Regions from separate parts of the Homo sapiens genome. Here all the other regions are reported to be linked to region 1. The links are microRNA targets in miRTarBase. Many come from high-throughput screens and were not tested one by one. Region 1 holds a microRNA gene; each other region holds the end of a gene's coding sequence.

What was found. The annotated mature microRNA hsa-miR-4728-5p reads UGGGAGGGGAGAGGCAGCAAGCA and lies in region 1 at 1,879-1,901, opposite strand. An mRNA with a match to its seed (bases 2 to 7 or 8) in the 3' UTR can be bound and repressed. Matches are read on the target gene's strand: a 7mer-m8 pairs with bases 2 to 8, a 7mer-A1 pairs with bases 2 to 7 and ends in A, and an 8mer does both.
Region 2: miRTarBase lists MOCS3 as a target of hsa-miR-4728-5p. Seed matches in the 3' UTR shown: 7mer-A1 at 6,490-6,496, 7mer-m8 at 6,286-6,292, 7mer-A1 at 4,684-4,690, 7mer-A1 at 4,517-4,523, 7mer-A1 at 4,297-4,303 and 7mer-A1 at 4,141-4,147.
Region 3: miRTarBase lists CRKL as a target of hsa-miR-4728-5p. Seed matches in the 3' UTR shown: 7mer-A1 at 1,009-1,015 and 7mer-A1 at 1,144-1,150.
Region 4: miRTarBase lists ZNF790 as a target of hsa-miR-4728-5p. The part of its 3' UTR that is shown has no 7-base or 8-base seed match.

Annotation. Positions count from the first base shown.
Region 1 is chr17:39,721,241-39,728,396 of GRCh38, reverse strand. MIR4728 (microRNA 4728) reads right to left here and starts at 1,902; the gene lies at 1,836-1,902. It overlaps ERBB2 (erb-b2 receptor tyrosine kinase 2), which reads right to left. Exons shown (of 27, transcript NM_004448.4): 17 at 4,940-5,078; 18 at 4,737-4,859; 19 at 4,387-4,485; 20 at 3,486-3,671; 21 at 3,193-3,348; 22 at 2,995-3,070; 23 at 2,544-2,690; 24 at 1,738-1,835; 25 at 1,394-1,582; 26 at 850-1,102; 27 at 1-708. The coding sequence ends at 353. RefSeq lists an enhancer at 1,122-2,094.
Region 2 is chr20:50,959,778-50,967,326 of GRCh38, reverse strand. MOCS3 (molybdenum cofactor synthesis 3) reads right to left here. Exons shown (of 1, transcript NM_014484.5): 1 at 3,398-7,549. The coding sequence ends at 7,102. Among named protein-coding and RNA genes, the nearest start is that of MOCS3, 4.7 kb to the right of the region's middle.
Region 3 is chr22:20,949,525-20,954,947 of GRCh38, forward strand. It overlaps CRKL (CRK like proto-oncogene, adaptor protein), which reads left to right. Exons shown (of 3, transcript NM_005207.4): 3 at 187-4,223. The coding sequence ends at 321. Among named protein-coding and RNA genes, the nearest start is that of LINC01637, 4.9 kb to the right of the region's middle. RefSeq lists enhancers at 1,995-2,496, 2,497-2,996.
Region 4 is chr19:36,813,421-36,821,103 of GRCh38, reverse strand. ZNF790 (zinc finger protein 790) reads left to right here. Exons shown (of 5, transcript NM_206894.4): 5 at 990-3,676. The coding sequence ends at 2,671. The region is part of intron 3 of ZNF790-AS1 (ZNF790 antisense RNA 1); the gene reads right to left. Among named protein-coding and RNA genes, the nearest start is that of ZNF790-AS1, 20 kb to the right of the region's middle.

The DNA of each region.
Region 1 (7,156 bases):
CTTAGGGCCGCTTCCCCTCTCAGGCCAGCTTCCCTAAGGCTTTCAGTACCCAGGATCTGGAAGGAAAGGGCCAAGCTGGGCTGTGGCATCCACTGGACCCTAGAGTCTCATTGGGCAGGGCCTCAGAATCCACAAAGACTCCCCAGTGCTGTTCCTCTTCCAACGAGGCTGGACCCCTTCCAGCCATCTGGGAACTCAAGCAGGAAGGAAGGTTCCTTAGGACAGGTTCCTGGCATGGCAGGTTCCCCTGGAAGTGGTCGGAGGGCCCTCCCACCTCTTGATGCCAGCAGAAGTCAGGCCTTCCCTGCTCCCTGAGGACACATCAGGGCTTCTGCGGACTTGGCCTTCTGGTTCACACTGGCACGTCCAGACCCAGGTACTCTGGGTTCTCTGCCGTAGGTGTCCCTTTGAAGGTGCTGGGTGGAGCCCCCCGCTCTGGTGGGTCCTGGTCCCAGTAATAGAGGTTGTCGAAGGCTGGGCTGAAGGCAGGAGGAGGGTGGGGCTGAGGGGCAGCTCCTCCCTGGGGTGTCAAGTACTCGGGGTTCTCCACGGCACCCCCAAAGGCAAAAACGTCTTTGACGACCCCATTCTTCCCTGGGGAGAGAGTCTTGGGCCTTTCCAGAGTGGCACCAGCAGGTCGGGCAGCAGGCAGAGGGCCCTCTCGGGGCGAAGGGGGCTGGGGCCGAACATCTGGCTGGTTCACATATTCTGAAAGGTCAAGAGAAGGTGACCCATTAGGGGAAGGAACCCCGGTGTCTCTGCCACTCCCTCTGCCCCCACAGTGGACCCTGGGCTGAAGGTCCCACCTCCCCTGCCCATCAGTCTCTCTGCTTAGACTGGACTCCATACCAGGCTGGGGGCTGCAGGTCAGGGGGGCAACGTAGCCATCAGTCTCAGAGGGCAGGGGTACTGTGGGGTCCTCACTGTACCGCTGTAGAGGGCTGGGGTCATGTGTGGGGAGGCTTTGCAGCCCCTTGGCTGCCCCCATTCCCAGGTCACCATCAAATACATCGGAGCCAGCCCCTTCGGAGGGTGCCAGTGGAGACCTGGGGGCCTCCTCTTCAGAGGGCTCCAGCCCTAGTGTCAGGTCCCCACCGCCACTCTGGGGACAAGAAAGAAAGTCATGATGGGGGTCACTCACGGATCTGGGATGGGGACTCCATGGAAGGTGACAGGGTCACAGGAGAAAAACAGAGGTCACCTTTGGGGTATGACACAGTCACCGTGGAGAGAATGGGGTCACAGGGGTTGGAAGGCAGTAAGAATTTTTTGTAGGGATAATGGGGTTTCCTTGAGAGGTGACAGTTGAGGGAACATCAGAGAAAGGGACCCTAGTCCACCGGGGTTGGGGGAGGTAAGCAGACAGCCACACAGTGTGACCGAGGGCACTGACCCTGGTAGATGAGCTGCGGTGCCTGTGGTGGACCATGCCCCCAGCGCCCGGGGCAGGGTCTGGACAGAAGAAGCCCTGCTGGGGTACCAGATACTCCTCAGCATCCACCAGGTCCCCCATGTCATCGTCCTCCAGCAGTGAGCGGTAGAAGGTGCTGTCCAAGGGACTGGCTGGGCCCAAGTCCTCATTCTGTGGAGGAAGGAGAGGCAGGATGGTGGCCCCTCCCCAGCCCAGCATGCAGCCTTCCGTGAGGGGCCTGGCATACTGGACTCATCTCTCCTTCCCACCCTCTGCAGGAGGGTGCTCTTAGCCACAGGCAGGGATGGGGCACAGAGGCCCAGTACCTGGATGACCACAAAGCGCTGGGGGTCCCTGGCCATGCGGGAGAATTCAGACACCAACTCCCGGAATCTTGGCCGACATTCAGAGTCAATCATCCAACCTGGGGCAGGAGGGAGGTCAGCATGCTAGTCCCAGGCCCTGTGTGCTTGCTGCCTCTCCCCTCCCACTCCCCCTCCAGTCTGGTCTAGACAGTCCCAAGGGACAGCCCAAAGCCCTCAGGTGGTAGAGAAGTAGCACCAGACTCTGGGGTCTTCAGCCAGAACCTTTGGCATCTCTTCTAGTTTCCCTTTTAATTTTTTTTTTCTTTTTGTTTGCTTTTTTATTTTTTTGAGATGAGGTTTCGCTCTGTCACCCAGGCTGGATTTCAGTGGTGCAATCATAGCTTACTGCAACCTTAAACTAGGCTCAAGTGATCTTCCTGCCTCAGCCTCTCCTGAGTAGCTGGGACTACTGGCACACACCACCACACCCAGATAATTTTTTTATTTTTTGTAGAGATAGGATCTCACTATGTTGCCCAGGCTGGTCTTGAACTCCTGGCTTCAAGGGATCCTCCCACCTCAGCCTCCAAAAGTACTGGGATTACAGGCATGAGCCACTGTGCCCAGCTTAATTTTGTACAAGAGTGTTCCTCAAGAGTGGCTTTGGACTTTGACTGTAAAAGGGATACAAGAAGGTTTTGAGGCTCCTAACATACTAGGGCTCCTGGGTCTACATACATCCTGGTCCCCTTTCATGCCCCTTGTGGGCTCCTCCACCCAGGACCTCCCACCCTCCTCCAGGCAGCCAGCACAGCTCAGCCACGCACATTTGACCATGATCATGTAGACATCAATGGTGCAGATGGGGGGCTGGGGCAGCCGCTCCCCCTTTTCCAGCAGGTCAGGGATCTCCCGGGCTGGGATCCCATCGTAAGGTTTGGCCCCAAAAGTCATCAGCTCCCACACAGTCACACCTAAGGCAGAGACAGGGTCAGGAGTGGGAGGGCCAGAGGGAGCTTTAGTGTACTGAGCCAGAGGTTCTGCTCAGGAGTCTAGCATCATGGCAGGTAGCAGGGGGAGATGTGATGCCAGGAGACAGACCCTACCCGGTCTTTCCCTAATCCTGGGAAGTGCACAGACCCTGCAAGGTGGGGCACAGGCAGCCCCTTCCCTCCCTTCACATGCTGAGGTGGCCCCGTAATTCTCCCCATCCCAGCTCTCATCCTCCCTCCAGCCATGGCTCCTCACCCACCCCTCCCAACACCCCCCATCACACACCATAACTCCACACATCACTCTGGTGGGTGAACCGCCGGCGGAGAATGGACTCCAGCGCCATCCACTTGATGGGCACCTGGGAGGGCAGAAGAGGAAGTCCTCCAACTGTGTGTTGTGGGGAGGTGGCCACTCAGAGTTCTCCCATGGGCTAGACACCACTCCACCCAGCCTCCTCTGCTCCTTGGTCCTTCACCTAACCTTGCCCCCATCTGCATGGTACTCTGTCTCGTCAATGTCCAGCAGCCGAGCCAGCCCGAAGTCTGTAATTTTGACATGGTTGGGACTCTTGACCAGCACGTTCCGAGCGGCCAAGTCCCTGTGTACGAGCCGCACATCCTCCAGGTAGCTCATCCCCTGGAATGGGAAGCACCCATGTAGACCTTCTGGGAGGGCCTGGGCCTGGCCACATGCCCAGCAAGAGTCCCCATCCTAGCCCCTTGTGGACATAGGGGTTTGCTCCGGAGAGACCTGCAAAGAGCCCAGGTGCATACCTTGGCAATCTGCATACACCAGTTCAGCAGGTCCTGGGAGCCCAGGCGTCCGCGGTTTTCCCGGACATGGTCTAAGAGGCAGCCATAGGGCATAAGCTGTGTCACCAGCTGCACCGTGGATGTCAGGCAGATGCCCAGAAGGCGGGAGACATATGGGGAGCCCACACCAGCCATCACGTATGCTTCCTGGGGACAAGGGTACGCTGAGAGGGTATGGGAGACCACACACCCCCAAACACCACACAGCCTCCCAACCATCACAAACCACAGCCATGGCCCACAGCCTGTGAAGGCTCAAAGTACCAGCCTGGACAACATGGTGAAACCCTGTCTCTACTAAAAATACAAAGATTAGGCCGGGCACGGTGGCTCACACCTGTAATCCCAGCACTTTGGGAGGCCGAGGCGGGCGGATCATGAGGTCAGGAGTTTGACACCAACCTGGCCAACATGGTGAAATCCCATCTCTACTAAAAATACAAAAATTAGCCGGGCGTGGTGGCTCGCGCCTGTAATCCCAGCTACTCAGGAGACTGAGGGAGAAGAATCGCTTTAACCTGGGAGGCTGAGCTGAGACCGCACCATTTCACTCTAGCCTGGGTGACAGAGCGAGACTCTGTCTCAAAAAAAAAAAAAAAATTAGCGGGCGCTTGTAATCCCAGCTACTCAGGAGCCTGAGGCATGAAAATCGCTTGAGTCCAGGAGGTGGAGGTTGCAGTGAGCCGAGATAACGCCACTGCACTCCAGCCTGGGTGACAGAGCAAGACTCCGTCTCCAAAAAAATAGTCTAGGTTTGCGGGAGTCATATCTCCCCAAACCCCAATGAAGAGAGACCAGAGCCCAGACCTGCAGCCATGGGGTCCTTCCTGTCCTCCTAGCAGGAGAGGGTGGAGGGGCTTACGTCTAAGATTTCTTTGTTGGCTTTGGGGGATGTGTTTTCCCTCAACACTTTGATGGCCACTGGAATTTTCACATTCTCCCCATCAGGGATCCAGATGCCCTGGGCAGAAAGAGGAGGATATGAGTGAGAAGAGCGTGGGCTGGATCCTACCTGCCTTCCAGGAGATCATTACTTGTCCTCCAAACATCCTTCACCACCCTAGGGCTTGGCCCCGCTCCCTTCTCCGCTGTAACTGCCCTCCCCCAAACACTGCCTCCAGCTCTTGCCCCTCCCATCAGAACTGCCGACCACACCCCTCCAGGCACCGCCCCCATCCTCTGGGGCCGCCCACCCCAGGACCTGGCCCTGACCTTGTAGACTGTGCCAAAAGCGCCAGATCCAAGCACCTTCACCTTCCTCAGCTCCGTCTCTTTCAGGATCCGCATCTGCGCCTGGTTGGGCATCGCTCCGCTAGGTGTCAGCGGCTCCACCAGCTGGGGTGAGGGGGTGGTGGGTCAGTGCCGGGGGCCGGTGCAGACCCCACGCGGGCTGGGAGGACTTCACCCCGCCTCACCTCCGTTTCCTGCAGCAGTCTCCGCATCGTGTACTTCCGGATCTTCTGCTGCCGTCGCTTGATGAGGATCCCAAAGACCACCCCCAAGACCACGACCAGCAGAATGCCAACCACCGCAGAGATGATGGACGTCAGAGGGCTGGGGGCGGAAGCCAGGGTCAGGGATTGAGGGCTAGTTTGGGGTGGGAGGGACAAAGGGGGCCCACGGGGGACATGAAGGTGTTTGGCATTCGGAAAGGGAAGTCGGAAGGGTGACCCACAGGCTTGGACCCTCTCCTACTCTAAAACCTGCCTTGGCTCCCCGCTGCCTCCACAATAAAGTCCAAACTCCTTGTAGGCAATCAGAACCCTCTCCGCATCTCCAGATTCTCTATACTCTTGCCCTTGGCTCTGGCTTAGGGCTTCAACAATTCATGGTGTAAAAATCACTAAGGACTCTGGGCGCGGTGGCTCATGCCTGGAATCCTAGCACTTTGAGAGTCTGAGGTGGGCAGATCACAAGGTCAGGAGTTCGAGACCAGCCTGGCCAACATAGTGAAACCCCCGTCTCTACTAAAAATACACACACACAAAAATTAGCTGGGCGTGGTGTGGGTGCCTGTAATCCCAGCTACTTGGGAGACTGAGGCAGGAGAATCGCTTGAACCCGGGAGACAAGAGGTTGCAGTGAGCTGAGATTGTGCCACTGCACTACGGCCAGTGCAAGACTCCATCTCAAAAAAAAAAAAGTCACTAAGGAGACTGTTAATACACATGCCCCTCAACACCAAGGGGCTACGTCCTGATAAACCAATTCTAAGTTGAAACTGAAAATGCATTTAAGACACCTAGCCTGGCTTACACGTGCTCAGAACATTTACACTGCCAGCAGCTTACAGTTGGGCAGAATCATCTGACACAAAGCCTATTTTATAGTAAACTGTTAAATAAGTTTGTGTTATTTATTTATTTATTTTTGAGACAGGGCCTTGCTGTGTTGCCCAGGCTGAGTGCAGTGGTGAGATCATGGCCCACTGCAGCCCTGACCTCTGGGCTCAAGCAGTCTTTCCACCTCAGCTGCCCAAGTAGCTGGGACTACAGACACACGCCACCACACTCAGCTAGTTTTTTTATTTTTTGTAGAAATGGGGTCTCACTATGTTGCCCAGGCTGGTCTCGAGCTTCTGGCCTCAAAGGATCCTCCCACCTTGGCCTCCTAAAGTGCTGGGATTACAGGTGTGAGCCACGGTGCCTGGCTATGTAATTTATTGAATACTGAAAGTAGGGCTGGGCATGGTGGCTTGAGGCTGAGATGGGCAGATCACCTGAGCTCTCGAGTTCGAGACCAGCCTGACTAACATGGAGAAACCCCGTCTCTACTAAAAATACAAAATTAGCCGGGTGTGGTGGTGCCTGCCTGTAATCCCAGCCACTCTGGAGGCTGAAGCAGGAGAATCGTTTGAACCTGAGAGGTGGAGGTTGCGGTGAGCCAAGACTGCGCCATTGCACTCCAGCCTGGGTAACAACAGCAAAATGACATCTCAAAATAAATAATAAATAAATAAATAAATAAAAATAAAAGTGAAAAACAGAATGGCTGTATGGGTATTCAAAGTACGGTTTATACTGAATGTATATTATTGCTTTTCCACCATTGTAAAGTCAAAAAATCCTAAGTAATATCACAAATCAGCACACAGTCTGTATGCATACAATTTTGGGGCCCCACCCCCAGAGATTCTGACTGCTGCATGGGTACAGGAATGTACACCTGATGATTTTGATGTTCTAGCCAAAATTTCCACCCACAGGTCATGATTTTCCACACCTCCCAGTGTTTGCATAGGCTGTCCCTTCAGCCTGGACCACCATTTCTCCACAGGGTCATCTTTTAAGACTCGGCTCCGCCAGGCACGATGGCTCACACCTGTAATCCCAGCACTTTGGGAGGCCGAGGCAGGTGGATCACCTGAGGTCAGCAGTTCAAGACCAGCCTGGCCAACATGGCAAAACCTCATCTCTACTAAAAATACAAAAATTAGCCGGACGTGGTAGCGCATGCCTGTAATCCCAGCTACTGGGGGGCTGAGACAGGAGGATTGCTTGAACTGCTTGAACCTGGGAGGCAGAGGTTGCAGTGAGCCAAGATCGTGTCATTGCACTCCAGCCTGGGCAACAGAGCAAGACTCCATATCAAAAAAAAAAAAAAAAAAAAAAGACTTGGCTCATCGCCAGGAG
Region 2 (7,549 bases), not on the chromosome of region 1:
CATTATGTTTCTTGGTCTAGGAGGGAGATGGTGACAAGAGTGTGTTCAAGTTATGAAAATTAATCAAGCAGTACACTTAGAATTTGTGCATTTTTCTTTTTTAAAAATAGAGGCAGGGTCTCACTATGTTGCTCAGGCTGGTCTCGAACTCCGGGACTCAAGTGATCCCCTCATCTTGGTCTCCCAAAGTGCTGGGATTACAGGTGTGAGCCACCACACCCAGCCAGGATTTGTGCATTTTTCTATATATAATTTGTTCAATTAAAGATTTTTTATAATGGTTCCAAATTTCAGGAATCTCGAATTACTTGCTTAGTAGGATACTAAGCCTACAAAATATAAAGTAATACTTTACTGTATACTTAAGTCTATGGAGTTGCTGTCTCCTATCTGTAGGAGTAGAAGACAATTACTTCTTGGCTTGGGTTGGTTTGCCCCTGGTAAGGAGGTTTCTTGTGGCACCAGGAAGGTTTCATGATTCTCCATAAAGAACAGATTTGGCATGTCTTGCTTGGTGCTTCTCTCATTGTGTGTCTAATGATTCCATGGACATAAAAGAATACTCTATATTGAAGGAGAAAGTATGTTTCTTACTTGCTGTCCTCAGTCCTCCCCCAGTGGCTCTCATCAGTATCCTCATCCCAGTAAATAACACAAACATCCACCCAGTCCATCCAGGTGCTCAAGCCCAACCCTGAGGCATCTTGACTTCCCCCTCTCCCTCCTCTGATCCTTCAAAGATGTCCACCTCCAAGTCACCGCGCCAATCTGTCTACTTCCCTCCTCTCTACCACCCATTCTAGTCCTAGTGTGGCCAGTTGAATAACAGCCCCCAAAGATGTCAAGCCTGAAACCCTGGAGCCTGTAAATATGTTACTTTCATGGTAAAAGGGACTTTGCAGGTGTAATTTAAGTTAGGAAGTCTGATCCTTTGAGCTGGAGCTGCAAGGTTAAAAAAAAAAATCCTGTGATGGGGAGTGTAGCTTGGATTAGCCAGTTGGGCCCTATATAATCACAAGCCCTTAGAAGAGGCAGACAAGGCTGGATGCGGTGGCTCACGCCTATGATTCCAGCACTTTGGGAGCCTGAGGCGGATGGATCACCTGAGGTCAGGAGTTCGAGACCAGCCTGGCCAACATGGTGAAACCCTGTCTCTACTAAAAATACAAAAATTAGCCAGGCGTGGTGGCACATGCCTGTAGTCCCAGCTACTCGGGAGGCTGAGGCAGGAGAATCACTTGAACCCAGGAGGCGGAGGTTGCAGTGAGCCGAGATGGAGCCACTGTACTCCAGCCTGGGTGGCAGAGCGATACTCTGTCTCAAAAAAAAAAAAAAAAAAAAAAGAATGACAGAGTTTGTGAGGGAGAGTTGGACTGAGGGCATCACGACGGAGTTAGGGGTTGAAATTGATATACCACTGGCTTCGACGATGGAGGAAGGGTCGAGAGCCGATGAAGGCAGGCAGCCTCTAGAAGCTGGAAAAGGCCAGGAACGAATCCTCTCCCAGAGCCTCCAGAAAAAAAAGCAGCCCTGATCACACCTTGATTTTAGGACTTCTGACTTCCAGGATGGTAAGAGAATAAACCTGTGTCAAGCCACTTCGTTTGTGGTAACTTGTCACAGCAGCAATAGGAAACTGACATACTTAGGTGCCATCACTTTTCACCTGTGCCTAGCTGATCGCCTGCCTCTGTCCTTGCACCATAATCTCCCTTTTTCACAGAGGGGCCGGAAGAATCTTGGTAATTTAGAAACAGGGTCCCTGCACACCAGCACATCCTCCTTTTTTTTTTCTTTTTTTTTGAGATGGAGTTTCAATCTTTTGCTCAGGCTGGAGTGAAGTGGTGCAATCTCGGCTCACTGCAACCTCTGCCCCCCGGGTTCAAGCGATTCTCCCGCCTCAGCCTCCTGAATAGCTGGGATTACAGGCATGCACCACTACTGCCCGGCTAATTTTTGTATTTTTAGTAGAGACGGAGTTTTGCCATGTTGGCCAGGCTGGTCTCAAACTCCTGACCTCAGGTGATCCACCCACCTTGGCCTCCCAAAGTGCTAGGATTACAGGCGTGAGCCACTGTTCCTGGCCACATCCTCCTTCTTAAAACCTCCCATGGGTTTCCATGATCCTTAGAATAAGATCCAGCCTCCTCACCATAGCCCACAATGCCTTGCGCCATCTGGCCCTGGCCTCCCTCTTCCCATTCATTGTGCTCTGGCCTTAGCTGGCTTCTATGTGTATCCCAACTTGAAATGCTCTTTCCAGCCTCAGAACCCTTGCACTTGCTGTTCCCCTTGCCTGAATGCTCTTCCCAGCTCACCTCGTGGCTCCTGCCATCTCCTTCAAGCTTCTTGGCTGAAACGGCCCCTTGCCAGGGGTCTTCTCTGGCTACCACCCCAGCCCCCAGCCATTATTGCTTCTTACAAATCACAATCTATGACTGTATAACTGGTTATCTGTCCTCTCCCTCTTCTACTAGGATGTAAGGTTGTATGGACAAGACGCCCAGTCTGTCTTGTTCGTGGTTGTGTCCCTCTGTGTCAGGCATCAGTACCTGACCATTTGTAATGAGCATTAAATATTTCTTAAATGAACCCGTTGTGTTTCCTTGGCATGACCTAAATGACTTCCCCATTGCATGTCCTCTACTTATAATAAGCACTTGGGTTCTAGTTCTGATAGAATAGAAGCAAATAAATGGGAAACTCGGGCCTTTGTGCAAGGTCAGGGTTGTCAAGCCTACAGACATGGGCAGATGTTTCTCTACAGAGCAATGCGCATGAGGATAAAATACATAGCAGCTGTTGATTAATTAAATAGTCCTAAGCTGAGTTGCAGTGAGCCAAGATCATGCCAATGCACTCCAGCCTAGGAGAGAGAGACTCTGTCCCCCCCACAAAAAAAAAGGCAGCAGCAGCAGAAAAAAACACCTAGATAATTCACAACTGTTGTTTTTTAAATCGTGAATAATTGAACTAAAGATTGGAAACCAGAGTCAGTGTCAATCCACAGTACTTCATAATAAACTATCCTATTTTTCACCCAAATTCTGGGCTTGGTTTTTGTTTGTTTGAGACAGAATTTTACTCGTTGCCCAGGCTGGAGTGCAATGGCACGATCTCAGCTCACTGCAACCTCTGCCTCCCAGGTTCAAGTGATTCTCCTGCCTCAGCCTCCCAAGTAGCTGGGATTACAGGCGCACACCACCACACTCGGCAAATTTTGTTTTAGTAGAGACAGGGTTTCTCCATGTTGGCCAGGCTGGTCTCAACTCCTGACCTCAAGTGATCCACCCACCTCGGGACACTGCCTGTGTAATACACCAGTGTTACACAGAGGATTCCCCAAGATTTCACTCTGGAGTTCCACATCTAGAGAGAAGGAGGCATACCAAATGTCTCAGAGTACATTTCTATTGTATCTGGAATACACTTCCGTGATTGTCAGGACATAGATTGCTTTCTATGCCCTGACAGGGCATGAACACATATGAAGCAATGGCAAAGTTTTGCTTAGAGTCAGTATAGCATGACACTTAGGGAATGGGCTCTTCAACCAGAGCATCTGGATTCAAATCCCAAATAACACAGTAAGTGCTCAAAATATTAGCTATTATTGTATTTAGAATAAAAACCAAACTACTATGGTCTACAAAGTTTATGATGTTCCCTGCTTCTCAAACCTCACCCTGTCCCACTCTCCCTAATTGTTTGCAACCCAACTTGCCTCTGCAGTTTCTTGAACGGAACATTCCAAGTTTATTTACCTTGAGGTCTTTACAGTTATTTTTCTCCCAGTATAGAATTTTCCTCAGATCTTCTGTAACTGGCTCTTTCTCACCTTTCAGGTTTTGGGTTTAATGTCATCTCTGAGGCCTTCCATAATTAAGCTATTCAAAACAGATCCCCTCCCCCACCCTAATATGTCACAGTTTCATTTCTTTTATGGCACTTATCAGTAATTTACTTATCACCATTTAAATATAAACTCCTCTACAACAGGAAACCTCTTGCTCATTTTTATTCCAGAACCTAGAAGAACTAGTACACTGAAGGCATTTGATGTTTGTTATGAAAAGGAAACAACAAAAAAATCAAGTTCAGGCTGGGCATGGTGCCTCATACCCGTAATCCCAAGCACTTTGGGAGGCTGAGGCAGGAGGGATGCTTGAGCCCAGGAGTTTGAGATCAGCCTAGGCCACATATTCAGACCCCATTGCTACCAAAAAATTTTTAAATTAAAAAATGGCTAGGCATGGTGGCATACAACTGTAATTCAAGCTACTTGAGAGGCTGAGGTGGGAGGATCACTTGAACCCAGGAGGTTGAGGCCACAGCGAGCTGTGATCACAACACTACACTCCACCCTGGGCGACGAAGCAAGACTTCGTCTCAAAAAACAAATTATGTTCAAATCCTATCTCACCATAAAAACCTAGCTACAATCCCCAGAGAAAACCAAATTTCAAATACTAATATATGCCAGGTGCAGTGACTCATGCCTGTAATCCTAGCACTTTGGGAGGCTGAGGTGCACAGATCACCTGAGGTCAGGAGTTCAAGACCAGCCAGGCCAACATGGCGAAACCCCATCGCTACTAAAAATAGAAAAATTAGCCAGATGTGGTGGCAGGTGCCTGTAATCCCAGCTACTCAGGAGGCTGAGGCATGAGAATCACTTGAACATGGGAGGTGGAGGTTGCAGTGAGCCGAGATTGTGCCGCTGCACTCCATCCAGCCTGGGGGATAGAGCGAGACTCTGTCTCCAAAACAACAACAACAAAAAACAAATACTGAAATAGATCTGGGTTGTGTACTGGGTATCTGTTATATTCTTAACAGCCCATCTTTTGAAAAATATTTCACTATTTGGGAAAATCCCACATCATGAGTTCTGTCTTCCTATTGTAGATATCAAAACACAAATTCCCAGCCTCTCTTGCAGCTAAGATGTAGGCATGTAATTAGACTCTGCCTACCAGGCACCCTCATAAGGCTTGACTCAGAAAAGAATAATGTAGTGACTCTGTTTCTCGACACATGGACTGTGGCTGAAGTGTTGGGCTTTCTGGGAGAGTTGGGGGGGCACGTCAAGTGAAACTGGTGAGACTGTAGTGGCGTTTCCTCCGGTACTTGATAGGGCAGCACAACATAGACACTGTTCTCCTAAGGCCAGTTTTGTGCATGATTTCGGGCATCATTCCTAGAAGTACAGCCTTGAATCTGTCCCCAAAATTCTCAAAAGCACCTCCTATCACTTTAGTAAACCTTTTAACACTTAGCTAGTCAGCTTCTCTTGCCTGTCCCCTGTGACAACCAGGTTTATAGGAACTACAACTGTCTATAACTTTAGGACTTCAGTCTTTAGAATATGAAATTGTTCCTGTGTGTCGCTATTTGTTTCCTGCTATGTATCAGAATCAGTTGTCCCTGGAAGAAGGAGATGAAAAACACAGGCCAGCCATCTTTGTTCTCCACTCCAGGTCACAGTCATTTACCTCCATAACTCGTTGGCAGGAACAGTCATAAGAGACCTGCTTCATCTTTATAACAGAAGGGTATACCATACTTTAAGTATACCTGTTCAAAGAATTAGTTACAATGTTTCACAGTTAAAAAGTGATGACTAATTTTGAATTTGTTAAATACCACCCTCTTATAATAAAACAAGATTCTATATCACAAATTGCAAACTGGTAAGTAAATCTGGTCTACAAAGGGTTTTTGCTGGCTTATGATACATTTAAGCTTTAAAAAAAATGGTTAACAGAAATACAAAGATTTTATAGTTGTATCTGTGATTTCTGCCATTCTTAAAAAAACAACAGCAGCAATTGATGATTATAAGCCTGCATGCAGCAAGCAGGAGGTCACAGGCCCCCTTCTGACAAGCCATTAGTTCATCTGGCCACTGATAGGCACTCACAAATCAAATTTTTACTTATAATGTTGTTGTATATATTGGAAGTTGGTGAGACTACCTACTATTTTATGAAAATGTTAAGTAAACAAACATAAAAACATTTTACATTAGTATAAAATGCTGGAATAAAAAAACATTAAATCAAAAGAGAAAAGGCAAATTAAAGGGGGAGAGGCAAAGGGTTGGGACTTTGACTTGAAAATTCCAAAGCAAGTCAAACCATAGTATGCAATTTAAACGATGTGATATGTGTGCAACATAAGGTGGACCCTGAAGTTAACTTTAAGAAAACAGTAGCAATTTATAAGAGACACTGACAGACTACAAAGGTGGTTTCCTTTATTTTGGTAAACTTTAAAGATCTCGGGAGGGTGTGGTGGCTCACGCCTGTAATCCCAGCACTCTGGGAAGTCGAGGCAGGCGGATCACGAGGTCAGGAGTTCGAGACCAGCCTGACAAACATGGTGAAACCCCCTCTGTACTAAAAATACAAAAATTAGCCAGGCGTGGTGGCGTGCGCCTGTAATCCCAGCTACTCAGGAGGCTGAGGCAGGAGAATCGCTTGAACCTGGGAGGCGGAGGTTGCAGTGAGCTGAGATCGCACCACTACACTCCAGCCTGGGCAACAGAGAGAGATTCCATCTCAAAAAAAAAAAAAAAATCTCATTTTGATACTAATTCAAAAGGCCAAATAGAATGACCCTCTTTCTGAATAATTAAAACAATTTACATTTTAAACATGTATTTCTGTAGGATGTATTCTATCATCTGAAATATTAATAAGATCCAAGAATTTCTTAACTGAACAGTAAACAGATCCGAAGTATATAATCTGTGAAAATGATTTAGAAAGCATTTTGACTGGGGGAGGTGGAAAATAAGGACATGTAAATGATCTGCAGTTTAAAATGCAAAATCCTGTCACGTTACATCTCACATGTCCAAGACATCCTCCGTGTGCTGAAAAAAAAAATGATGGTTCTCAGAAACGGTATAATCCATTAATAAGTCATTCATCCAATACATAACAATTTTTAAAACTCCTTATAAAAAGGAGTCCACGTATTCACAGATACTGTAGAATCCCCAGCTCCTATGTATATTACCGAAAAATGCAAACAAGTGTATCTTTGAGGTATTATGGCAATCCACATCTTTCTCATCAGACTATACCAGTCACCTCAGTACTGTGGAAATGTTCCATCGATTTTGGCAGCCCAGGCCATGAGGCCCCCCACAACATCCCGAACTGTTAAAGGGTCTAACTCTTGAGCTGCTGATAAGGACTGGAGGATCTTCACGGCTTTCTGTGAGTCATTTCCCAGTTTGCAAATCACATAAATGGGGACAGCAGCCCCTTCTTGTGTGCCCTGCTTCTCTTCCCAGATTGCTTCTTTTAAGAGTTTCAGGCTCTCCGCATCCCTGCGTTCCAAATGTTTCAGAGGGATGTGTAGGGCATGAGGCAAACGACAAATGTCCACCTCCACCTGAGGCCTGACGTCCAGCAACAGGTGGAATGCCCCAGAATCCAGCAGTCGCTTATAGTCGGTGACAGAAACACGCTCCTCTGGGCTCAGTAGTTGCAGGGAGCGGCATTTATCAGTGGCTGAGGAGCCACAGAAGGCTTCA
Region 3 (5,423 bases), not on the chromosome of region 1:
CCAGGCGTTAGAGGTTACATTGAGCAGGGATCTCACCACTACACTCCAGCATGGCTAACAGAGTGAGACCCTGTGTCTAAATAATAATGTATGGGCCCTTTGGATAAGGTAGTGTTTGTGATTTAATGTAAACTGTCTTTTTCTTGTTGCAGAGAAATGCTAACTTTGTCTTCTTCATCCATACAGGTTGGTGACATCGTGAAAGTCACAAGGATGAATATAAATGGCCAGTGGGAAGGCGAAGTGAACGGGCGCAAAGGGCTTTTCCCCTTTACGCACGTCAAAATCTTTGACCCTCAAAACCCAGATGAAAACGAGTGATTGCTGTTGCCCTGTTTCCTGCTGCTTTGTTGTTCTGCCTGTCCTAGTCTCCTTTGAAGTGGGAAAGCATTTTCTCTCATAGGCAAGTCACACTGCATTGCCGAAGTCCAGCTTTCTGCAGACTGGCAGTCGCACACACATTTGGAATGCACACAGCGGCTGCCTCCTGATGTTTGTATCATAGTCGTATTGTCAAAGAGTAGCCGATTTTAGAGTTCTTTTGGATCATAAACTGGAAATACTGATGGAAGCACACAAGTGGAGAGAAGTTGACATGGAAAGGGTCTTCCTTCTCATTGCTGCCCGTTTGTACATGGGACTGATTCTGTTGTGTTCACCAGAGAAAGCTTGAGGCCATGGCGAGATACTGCATGTTTGCTGTTCCACAAAGCAGTGGCTTAGCTGCCATCTTGCTTTTCTTTGGACAACAGGAAGTGAACCTTAAGGAAGAGAGAATTCTGTTCTAAAACTCCAAAATCTGGCTTTTTTTTTTCTTTTGTTTTGGTTTGGTTTTGGAAAACTAATTAATTAGACTTGTGTGGGGGTTTTTTTTTGTTTTGTTTTGTTTGTTTTGTTTTGTTTTTTTGAGACGGTGTCTCGCTGCATCACCCAGGCTGGAGTGCAGTGGCGCAATCTCGCCTTCCTGCAGTCTCCGCCTCCTGAGTTCAAGCGATTCTCCTGCCTCAGCCTCCCAAGTAGCTGGGACTGCAGGCGCGCACACCACGCCCAGCTAATTTTTGTATTTTTAGTAGAGACGGGGTTTCATCATGTTGACCAGGCTGGTCTCAAACTCCTGACTTCAGGTGATCCACCCGCCTTCAGCCTCCCAACGTGCTGGGATTACAGCCGTGAGCCGCCGCGCCTGGCCTAGACTTGTGTGTTCTAAACAGGTTAAGTAGCAGGTTGGGTTTTTATGATAGTGCAAGGAATGACTCATGCCTCTGAGCTTCTAAACTGAAGCTGCTGTAACTAAAGGAATCTGAAAAGAACAACCCTGAAGCAGAGGCCTTTATTGTCTTGGTTGCCAGTAGTACCTTGTTTTGCCATGTAGCAGACAACACACAAAATAATGCAGTTGTGGTGTGCCATGCTATGTGCACAGCCCCTTGGATTACTTTGTTTTAAAAAGCATCAGAGTTGGGGGTACTTTAGGGAAACCTTTGCTTACCTTGTTTTGCCAGTGATAAGAGCAGTGGGTTGGAGGGCACTTGGCCAGTTTTCTGTTCAGCTTTTCAGTGAATGTACCCCTTTAAGGTTCAGACTTAAACTTCCTTAAAAAGTGGCGTTGTTCATAGAATCGTTGGACTCATTAATGAATCGTTCAACTCCACTCACTGAAGCCCAGACCTCCGTGCCCAGGCCCAATCTCGTCAGGCTGCCAGAGAAAGTTGGTGCTGCTCATACTGGTCTCACAGTCTAAGTAAGTGTCTGTGATGCTCCCAAGCAAAGGAAATGCAAGCTCTGGAAATTCGTTAATGTATTTGATGTCTTAGTGTTTTAGTGACTAGGGAGACCATTAACTAGTTTATCATTAACCACTTATCAGTGTATTGATGTTAAAGCATTTCCCTGTTAGCTAAAAGAGGCCTGTTCATACAAGCCAACTGGTATATACGTGTGGTTCATCCATCATCTGCTGCACATAGCAGACTAGAATTCTGGGAACCCTGTGCAATTCAGTCTGCTCTCCCTTGTGGACCCTGGTAAAGAAAAGCCTCAGCTCATAGTGAACACAGCAGACCTAGAAATGTAGCAGCAGCCTACTGAGTAGCTTTCATTTACTGATCATCTGCTGTGACTGTGGCCCTGTCTGGAGGTTCCTAGGTTTTGAGATTTAGAGCAATGCATTCTGGAGACAGAACCAGCAGAACAGCCATTTTTCAATTTTTCTTTAAATCAGTATTCCATCAGGCAGATAACTGCTGTATTCATGAATCTTGAGAGTGTTCCTGAGACAGAATTAATGGTCATTTGGGAAAACTATCGCCATGGCTTCCCATCTGTGGTTTTCCTCTAAAAGCCTTGGAGATTAGCCCTTCCTTGCCAGTGAGAACGGTGACCGCCTCCTGCTCTGCACGGTCTGCGGCAGTTGCCGCTTCTGGTTAGGTGTGTCAGGTTGGCTTATTTTGGGTTCAGGCCTGGCGTAGCACCCACAAGTGGCAGACATATCACAAGAGTCCCCAGACTCTGCCTAGAAACAGTGTTTGCCCTTTGGCCAGTGACGTGGTTCATCCCGGCCCATGTTGAGCCATGAGTGGAGTTTCCAACAGAGGGAGGAATGTGTGCCTTGTTCAAGGAGGGCACGACCCTTAGGCCTTTTTCAACCAGATTTAGCTGAAGGGCTTGACACCTTTGAATTACAGCAGTTGACTCAGAGTGCAAGAAGTCTGGCCATTTTGGAAAGCAAGGTTTCCTTTCAGCCCTGTCTACTGACCAATACCCCGACTCACCTTGTGTGGCGCACTTCAGAATCAGATATACCTAGAGTATACCTGTGGTTTGGTTTTATAATTAATCAGCTCGTTACTTCAGCCCATGAAAATGGCATCCAGGGCTGCCAGGAGATTCAGAGCTCAAAACAAGGCGAGCTTGAGTTCTGCACTCCAGATATGTGCCAAAACTAGTAAAACTTAACGGACTTACAACCTTGTCAGTTTTTTTAATGAGGCAGGGATACTCTGTTTTTCACACTAAACATATGAATGCAGCACTGCTGCCTCAGCTCAGCTTCGTGCCTGGGTTCCCCACTGGTCTGGGAAGACTGTTGTGCTCCATAGAGCAGTGCACATCTGACCCAGAGGGTGGGTGTTCATAACTGCTACTTGCTCTGCTCTACCATGTTTAAAGAAATATTTGGATGTTAAATTAACTCACTATGGTTTTTCACCTGGGAAGGAAACAAATTACGTACTAGAGGGCATTGACTGGTTAAAAACTTGTGTATCCCGGGAAGGACCTGCGGTACAGGAGTCAGCCATGTCTGTGCTGTGTGGAACCACCTGATGACATGGTTAACGAGGAAGACGATGTGTTGACCGGCTGCCGTTTGAGGACTTTGGTCACCCAGACTAGACACCTTCTGTGCTCATGTTTGGAAAGCTGAAAGGGAAGGACAGCTGTGCCCTCCTGGGAGCTCATGTGTCCCTGGCGCTGTGCTAGCTTTCCTTTACAGCTGTTTACAGACAAGGCAGGCCTGAGGCAGATGGCCACTGCTCTTGTGATGTTTGCTCAGAGGAATATGAACATTTTATTTTTGAAAAGGGATGATGTGGTTTTTTGCCAGGTGTTTATAATTAATCCTTTAATATTATGGTTATTAACCTCTTAAACATGAATGAATTCTTGATTGTTTTAACACAGTACCTAAGACTAATGCTTTCTGTGGACACCACTGAGCTCTGCCTCAACTCCACCCTCTGCGACCGGAGGACTATGCCCCTAGTAACTGCTGTCGGTGTGGACGCTGTGCTGGTTCTGTTTTCTAAAGGAGCAGAAGGACAGGTCTCTGAGACAGGATCGTTGTCCCTACAGGAGGAACAGTGGCCTTGCTTCTTAGACGGTCTTCACTGTGTGTTTTAAAACAACAACAACAACAACAACAACAACATAAAACTCTTTTGACCTGTAACTTAAAGATCATAAACTTCAGGCAATAATATTTTCTGTGTAAGCTTTTAAAATTATTTTTGGGGATCATAGCTTGTTTTATTTTGTGCTATAAAATTAACAGTATTAAATGACTTATATTCTTAGAATACATCGAGTGTCTTTTCTTAACAGATTAGTGCCTTTTTATTTTTGTATTCCGTTTTACGTTACTGGTCCCAGCATCAAAACCCTTGTTTCCATGGCCTGTTTGTATATTGTCTCAATAAAACTTGCATCAGCCGGTGGTGGCGGCAGCTTCGGTGTTTCAGTGTCTCCTCAGTCCGCCCCCACTAGCCTCCTGGCAGTTCATCAGTGGTGAAATCTCTGATGCTTCTCAGAGACCCTTAGTGCTGCTGCTGACCAAGAGCTAGAATGAAGTCTTGGCATCCGCCCATTCCAACACTCGGGCACCCAGAGGAGAGCACCTGGGGTCTCCCTCCAAAAGAGAAATCTGCCTCCCAGAGTGTCTGTCTTGTAGGTATTGTATGGGAGCCTAGTGCTTGGCCTTCTGAGCATGAGGCAATAGTTCCCACAGGTTGCACCACCACAGAGAACTTGGATCTTTTTCCTTCTAGGCACCCATATCTGAGGCTTCTAGTAAATATTTCTTCAGCATGAGCTAACCAGGGTTGAATGGTATCAAGCAGAAGTCATGGGAAGTGAGCAGCCTCATTGCAGGTCAGGGCATGATATCTGTGCGGCTTTCTTGAATCCTTTTCTGTTCTTGGCTGTAGGTGGTTCTCCTGATGAACTTTGGGAGACCTCCAAGTGGATTGGCTTGAGGTGTTGGGAGGCCCACTGACACCCCCTCAGCCAGGGCCTTGTCTCTCCTACTCCCAGCTCTCAGTACATTTTATCTTTCACTTCACTGTACTCTATTCCCATGCCTATTTGTGTATTTTGAGGTGCATATTTTCTTGTAAAACCTCAGGAAGCCATTTTTAAAAATTATGGCTGGATGTGGTGGCTCATGCCTGTAATCTCAGCACTTTGGGAGGCCGAGATGGGCAGATCTGGAGTTCAGGACCAGCCTGGCCAACACGGTGAAATCTCATCTCGGCAAAAAATATAAAAATGAGCCAGGCATGGTGATGCAGGCCTGTAGTCCCAACTACTGTGCAGGGAGGGCCAAGGTGGGAAGATCTTTTGAGCTTGGGAGGCAGAGGTTGCAGTGAGCTGACATACCACTGCACTCCAGCCTGGGTGACAGAGGAAGATCCTTCTCACCGCCCTCCCCGCCCCCACCCCCACTAAGACAGTCTTGCTCTGTTGCCCAGAGCTGGAATGCAGTGGTGTGACGTCACCTCATTGCAACCTCCACCTCCCGGGTTCAAGCAATTCTTCTGCCTCAGCCTCCCCTGAGTAGCTGGGATTACAGGTGTGTGCCACCACGTCCAGCTAACTTTTGTATTTTTTAGTAGAGACGGGGTTTCACCATGTTGGCCAGGCTGGTC
Region 4 (7,683 bases), not on the chromosome of region 1:
AAAAAATTTCTCAAACTATTTTTTTGTTGTTGTTAAGACAGGGTCAGTGGGGGGAGGGGGGAGGGATAGCATTAGGAGATACACCTAATGCTAAATGACGAGTTAATGGGTGCAGCACACCAGCATGGCACATGTATACATATGTAACTAACTGGCACATTGTGCACATGTACCCTAAAACTCAAAGTATTAAAAAAAAAAAAAAAAAAAAGACAGGGTCTCACTCTGTCACCCATGCTGGAGTGTGGTAGTGTGATCATGGCTCCCTGCAGCCTCATCTCCTAGGCTCAGGTGATGCTGCCACCTCAGCCTTCCAGGTAGCTAGGACCACAGGCATGCACCACCACTCCTGGCTAATTTTTTATAGAGATGGGTTTTTGCCATGTTGCCTAGGCTGGTCTCAAACTTCTGGGCTCAAGCAATCCATCTGCCTCAGCCTTTCCAAGTGCTGGGATTAAAGGTGTGAATCACTGTACCTGGCCTTCAAACTATTTTTCTGTCTGAACTATCACCCATAATTATCTCCTTTAACCTAAATGCAGCATACCCTGCTATTGAGATCCTAGTACTTTGGTAACTCTGGATCAGATTACTTCCCTCATATTAGACTGATATTCTGCTATTTCCCAGCATTCCTATTTTTAAGCTCTGAATTATATAAGACATTCATCATAGTACTTGGAAACTTGTAGGTATTTTATGACTTATTATTCTGTTATTGAGGTGATACCTGGATAATCATTTTTTATTGAGCTCCTCAGATGAATATGATCAAAATAAAACATATTTCTCATCACTTGACTCAACTTTTATTTCTTTTAAATTTCTACTTATTTCTTGCCCTTTTTTTCATATTGCTCATATTTGAGAATTTTCTAAGCCATTCACTTCTCATATGCTTTACTTCAAGATTTTCTATATCTATTTTAGAAGTTGTATTGCTTTTTGTACATACAACCGTATGATGTTTTTACCTTCTTATTTTTCAGACATGCAGTCGAGGTGTCAGACCAAGAAGTTATTACCAAAAAATGGCATTTTTGAGAGAGAAATAGCCCAATTGGAAATAATGAGAATTTGTAAAAACCACAGCCTTGACTGTTTATGTTTTAGAGGTGACTGGGAAGGCAACACTCAGTTTCAAACACTTCAAGATAATCAAGAGGAATGCTTCAAGCAGGTGATACGCACCTGTGAAAAAAGGCCCACTTTTAACCAGCATACAGTGTTTAATCTACACCAGAGACTTAATACAGGAGACAAACTGAATGAATTTAAAGAACTGGGGAAAGCCTTTATTTCTGGTTCAGATCATACTCAACATCAGTTAATTCACACAAGTGAGAAATTCTGTGGAGATAAAGAATGTGGGAATACCTTTCTTCCTGATTCAGAAGTTATTCAATATCAGACAGTTCACACTGTTAAGAAAACATATGAATGTAAAGAATGTGGGAAGTCTTTTAGTTTACGTTCGAGTCTTACTGGTCATAAGAGAATTCATACCGGTGAGAAACCTTTTAAATGTAAGGATTGTGGGAAAGCCTTTAGATTTCATTCACAACTTAGTGTCCATAAGCGAATTCATACTGGTGAGAAATCTTATGAATGTAAGGAATGTGGGAAGGCCTTTAGTTGTGGCTCAGATCTTACTCGACATCAGAGAATTCATACTGGTGAAAAACCCTATGAATGTAATGAATGTAGAAAGGCCTTTAGTCAGCGATCACATCTTATTAAACATCAGAGAATTCACACTGGTGAAAAACCTTATGAATGTAAGGAGTGTGGGAAAGCTTTTACTCGTGGATCACACCTAACTCAGCATCAGAGAATTCATACTGGTGAGAAATCTCATGAGTGTAAGGAATGTGGAAAAGCCTTTATTCGTGGTTCAAATCTTGCTCAACATCAGAATGTTCATGTTGGTAGGAAACCTTATAAATGTGAGAAATGTGGGAAAGCCTATATTTGGAGCTCACACCTTGCTCGACATCAGCGAATTCATACTGGCAGGAAACCTTATGAATGTAAGCAATGCGGGAAGACTTTTACTTGGGCTTCGTATCTTGCTCAACATGAGAAAATTCACAATGAGAGGAAATCCTATGAATGTAAGGAATGTGGAAAGACCTTTCTTCATGGCTCAGAGTTTAATCGACATCAGAAAATTCATACTGGTGAGAGAAACTATGAATGTAAGGAATGTGGAAAGACCTTTTTTCGTGGTTCAGAACTTAATCGACACCAGAAAATTCATACTGGAAAGAGGCCATATGAATGTGAAGAATGTGGAAAAGCCTTTCTCTGGGGTTCACAACTTACTCGACATCAGAGAATGCATACTGGTGAGGAACCTTACGTATGTAAAGAATGTGGGAAATCTTTTATCTGGGGTTCACAGCTTACACGACATAAGAAAATTCATACTGATGCAGAACCTTATGGATGCAAGAAAAGTAGCCACATCTTTAGTCACCATTCATATTTTACTGAACAAAAAATTCATAATAGTGCAAATCTCTGTGAATGGACAGACTATGGGAACACCTTTAGTCATGAGTCAAACTTTGCTCAACACCAGAATATTTACACTTTTGAGAAATCCTATGAATTTAAAGATTTTGAGAAAGCATTTTCTTCAAGCTCTCACTTCATTTCACTCTTGTGAAATATTATATAAAAGTGTAGGAAGGGCTTTATTCATGACTCATTAATTGATGTCATTTATTTTTTTCTCTTGAGGAACACCACAAATGTAAGTAATATTGGAAGGCATTTTAACAGAGCACACATCCAGCAGCAGCAGCAGCAGCAGCAGCAGAGAATTCATCATGCAATCAATATAGGAAAGAAATTACTGATCAGTTATCAATTGCAGAATATCAGGGTAAAATTTTATGAGATAGCATGAATTCTTTTTGAATCATTCTCAAAACATTCTCATCAGAGATGTTGCATAAAGAATTTATATATAATTTGGCCAAGCATGGTGGCTCACACCTGTTATCCTAGCACTTTGGGAAACAGAGGTGGGTGGATCACCTGAGGTCAGGGGTTCGAGACCAGCCTGACCAACATGGTGAAACCCTGTCTCTACTAAATATACAAAAATTAGCCGGGCGTGGTAGCACACGCCTGTAGTCCCAGCTACTCGGGAGGCCGAGGCATGAGAATTCCTTGAACCTGGGAGGTGGAGGTTGCAGTGAGCCAAGATCACATCACTGCACTCCAGCCTGGGTGATAGAACAAGACTCCATCTCAAAAACAAAAACCCACAAGAATTTATATATAATTCATTTTGGAAATCTTTCATCATTAGCAAAATTCTGTTGTATTTCCACAAAAATCATGTAATTAATCTAGAAAAGCCTTGAACTATGTCATACAATTTATTTGGCATGTCTTGTTTCAATACATCCTGCCTCTATTTTTTTTTTTTGGAAAGTATCTTAAATCTATGTCTGTTTAATCGTATTCATTAGATTATAAGGGTTGAATGATTTGAGATTTACATGACTTAGTGACTGTCATTTGTATTGGTATTAAGCCATTTTATGAGAGGAGGACTTTTAAGACTATAATGATTATAGACAAATATGTCATCTCTATTTATGTCTTACTGAACATCAGAATGTTAATTCTGAAAAAAAATCAGTAAAATACAATGAAGAAAGCTTTGAATATTAATTTCACATGCTACATCAAAAAAACCTATAAAAGAAAGCCTTATGACTTTAGTAAAAGTGGGGTTGTTGAGTGTTCAGCAGTTTTTTAAAAGACATTCAGAAATAACTTCTCTCTAACAAATTTCTAAAGCCAAGTGTTATATAATTCTTTACCACAGTTATAACTCAGAAACTAGCAAATGGATAGCCATATGGATTCTTACCTCTTTGAAATTTACTACTATATATAAACCATTCTTAGATTAAAGAGCAAATAAAAAGTGAAATTACAGAGTATTTAGAATGATAATGAGACCTATATTTTAAATCCTGTGAAATAACTAAAACAGTTATCAATAGAAATTGCTCTGTGTATAAAACCAAGAAGACTGAGGGCAGTTTGTTTCTCTTCATCACTGTATCCACAGCACTGTATCCACAGCACTTAGGACAGTGCCTATAATGTTGTAGGGCCTCAAATATTTATTGAGTTAAATAATGATTACACAGCAAGGTAGAATAAGAACAAATACCCCAAATGAATGAATGGAAAGGCTTAATGAAAAGCTGAAATCATGGAATAAAAAACCATACAGGTTTTTCATCAAAATCTAGTCCTTTGAAGAAAACTATTATTCATTAGACTTTGTCAGTGCCTCTACTATATTATAAGGAGAAATGGAATATAACTATATGTTTGGAGATATTTTTTAGTATTAAGTATGTGAACTCTGTTAGACATGATTTTTATATGTGTACGGTTTTTTTCTAGGAAAACATTATTAAATATGATTAAGTTTCAAAAACAACCCAAAAAGTTCAAAAAATAGAAAAAAGTATCATGTAAGATGAGGTTGAGCACAGTGGCTCATGCCTGTAATCCAAACACTCTGGGAGGTTGAGACAGGAGTATCACTTGAACCAGGAGTTCCAGACTTGCCTGGACAACATAGGGAGACCCCCATCTCTGCAAAAAATAAATTAGCCAGGTGTGGTGGCACATGCCTCTGGTCCCAGCTACTCAGGAGGCTGAGGTGAGAGGACTGCTTGGGCCCAGGAGTTTGAGGCTGCAGTAAGCTGTGATCACCCCACTGCACTGCAGTCGGTGATGGAGCAAGACCCTGTCTAAAACAAAACAAAACAAACATGTAAGACTAGAAAACTGTACAGGCTACACCCTGAAGAATAGAAAATCCTATGGAAAATTTGCCAGGGCATGCTAAAAGACTAACATTTTTATAATAAAAGTAGATGGGATAGCTCTTGAACATCAAATTCCAGAAAAATTTCACTCATGAAGATACATGAAAAAAACTTACATAGATGAACCCAATATTTAATCAAAGAATAATATAGTAGATATTTGCTTATAATGTTTAAGCTCTGAGCAGGATGGATAATTTTTATTTTTGAGGTGGAGTCTCACTCTAGTTGCCCAGGCTGGAGTGCAGTGGGGTGATCTTGGCTCATTACAATCTCTGCCTGCCAGGTTCAAATGATTCTCCTGCATCAGCCTCCCGAGTACCTGGGATTACAGGCACCCTCCACCATGCCTGGCTAATTTTTGTATTTTCAATAGAGATGGGGTTTCACCATGTTGGCCAGGCTGGTCTCGAGCTCCCGACCTCAGGTGATCCGCCCACCTCAGCCTCCCAAAGTGCCAGGATTACAGGTGTGAGCCACCGTGACCAGCCTGGATGGGTAATTCTGAATGATGAAAAGTTACTTTATCAATTTCTTCTAAGTGAAGTTCTTGGTATCTTTTAGTGTTACATGAGTTAAGAAATGGTGACTATATGTACACATATTTAGCACATTTTGTAAGTCACACCTTTAACAGGTAGTTCCCTCCTAAATTATTGTCATCTATGGAATTTCACAATTTGTGTGAAAAATAATTTTTTGTTATGTAACTGTATTGTAATAAGCCATTTTCATTCATGTTGACTAGATCTTTTTTAAGGTGACAAGTACACTGAGATGGAGTTTCACTCTGTTGCCAGGCTGGAGTGCGCTTGCACAATCTTGGCTCACTGCAACCTCCGCCTCCCGGGTTCAAGAGATTCTCCTGCCTCAGCCTCCCGAGAGGCTGGGACTACAGGCATGCGCCACCATGCCCAGCTAGTTTTTGTATTTTTAGTAGAGATGGGGTTTCCCCATGTTGGCCAGGATGATCTCGATCTCTTGACCTCGTGATCTGCCCGCCTCAGCCTCCCAAAGTGCTGGGATTACAGGCGTGAACCACCGCACCCAGCTATGTTTATACTTTCAAAAACAGTGGAAGGATAAGCCAAGACCTAATCAAAATGATGAAATAATAGGTGGGAGCAGGGTGTGGTGGTGCACGCCTGTAATCCCAGCTACTTGGGAGGACATGGTAGGAGGATCCCTCGAGCATAGGAGTTCAAGTCCAACCTGGGCAACATAGCAAAACCCCTGTCTCTTAAGAAAAATTAAAATACAAACTATAGGTGGGAGAGAGCAAGGTTGGAAAGTAGTCACCTTTGATTTTACCTTGTTTTTATCTGAGAATCATTTTATAACCTCACAGTAAAGAATATTTCCTAGACAAAACATTTTAACTAGAAAAGTGTGGCATATTCATATTAATTTTATTATTCTGTTAACTGAAAGTCACCAGTAACAGAATGAACAGATGTCTGCTTCTGATCAAATGGAGAAACAGACCAGATTTACCCTTATATCTGTAAATACTAAAAAGCTAAACGAAATAGGTGAAACAATGGTTTTTAAGACATTGAATATACTAAAATGTCAATTTCCAATGAAGAACAGTGATCCCTGAAAAAAACAGAAATAAATTTTTCCTAGTTTTTCCAGATTACTGCTGGGAGGAGTAACTCAGGCAGAGCCTGGTGGTCTCCTAGTGTTTAGATAGAATGAGGAGTCTGATGAGGCCAAAGTGGCCCGAGTTGACAAGGCAAAACACTGAAGAGGAGAGAACTGCACGGAAATCTCCAGAGGATCTTCCTTTAAGTTCAGCTAAATATTCATCAACACGTGCGTGTGTGAAAACTACCTGAAGCCAGGGAAAAACAATTACCTTAAAGGATTAGAGGGAAGAATCCACAGAGCTCAAAAACGTCCAGGAATAATTCCTTTTCCCAGTAGCCAAAGTGGAAAATAAAAAATTACTAGGCATCAGCTGGGTGCGGTGGCTCGAGCCTGTAATTCCAGCACTTCGGGAGGCTGAGGCGGGTGGATCACCTGAGGTCAGGAGTTCGAGACCAGCCTGATCAACATGGTGAAACCCCGTCTCTACTAAAAATACCAAAAAAAAAAACCCGCCAGGTCTGTAATCCCAGCTACTCAGGAGGCTGAGGCAGGAGAATCACTTGAACCCGGGAGACAGAGGTTGCAGTGAGCTGAGATCGCACCACTGCACTCCAGCCTGGGCGACAGAGCGAGACTCCAGTTCAAAAAAATAAATAAAAATTAAAAAATAAAATAAAATAAAAAATTTACTAGGCATCCAGCATTCATTAAGGAGAATAATTCAGTTAAGGAGGAAAAGAATTCTGGGATTCTGGGAATTTCCTTAACCAATAAAGAGTATGTGTGAGAAACCTACTGCTAACATCATACTTAATGGTAAAAGTCCAAAGATCAGCAAAAAGAGGATACCTGGTCTAAACACTTCCACTAAGCATTATACTGGAAGTTCTAGCTAGTGCAATAAATGAAAGAATACAAAGTATCCAGATTGGAAAGGAAGTAAAATCATCTTTATTAACAGATTATATGATTGTCTATATAAAAAAAATCTGAAGGTATCTACAACACTATTAGAACTAAATGAGCTTAGTGAGACTGCAAAATAAAGATCAATATATATAAAGCAGATGATTTTGCATGAACTAGCCATGAACAATCTGAACCTTAAAACCTTAAATGCCATTTATAACACCATAAACAATATGAAATACATAGTGATGCATCTGGCAAAAGAAGTGCAAGATGTATAGTATAAAAATTAAAAACACTTCTGGGAGAA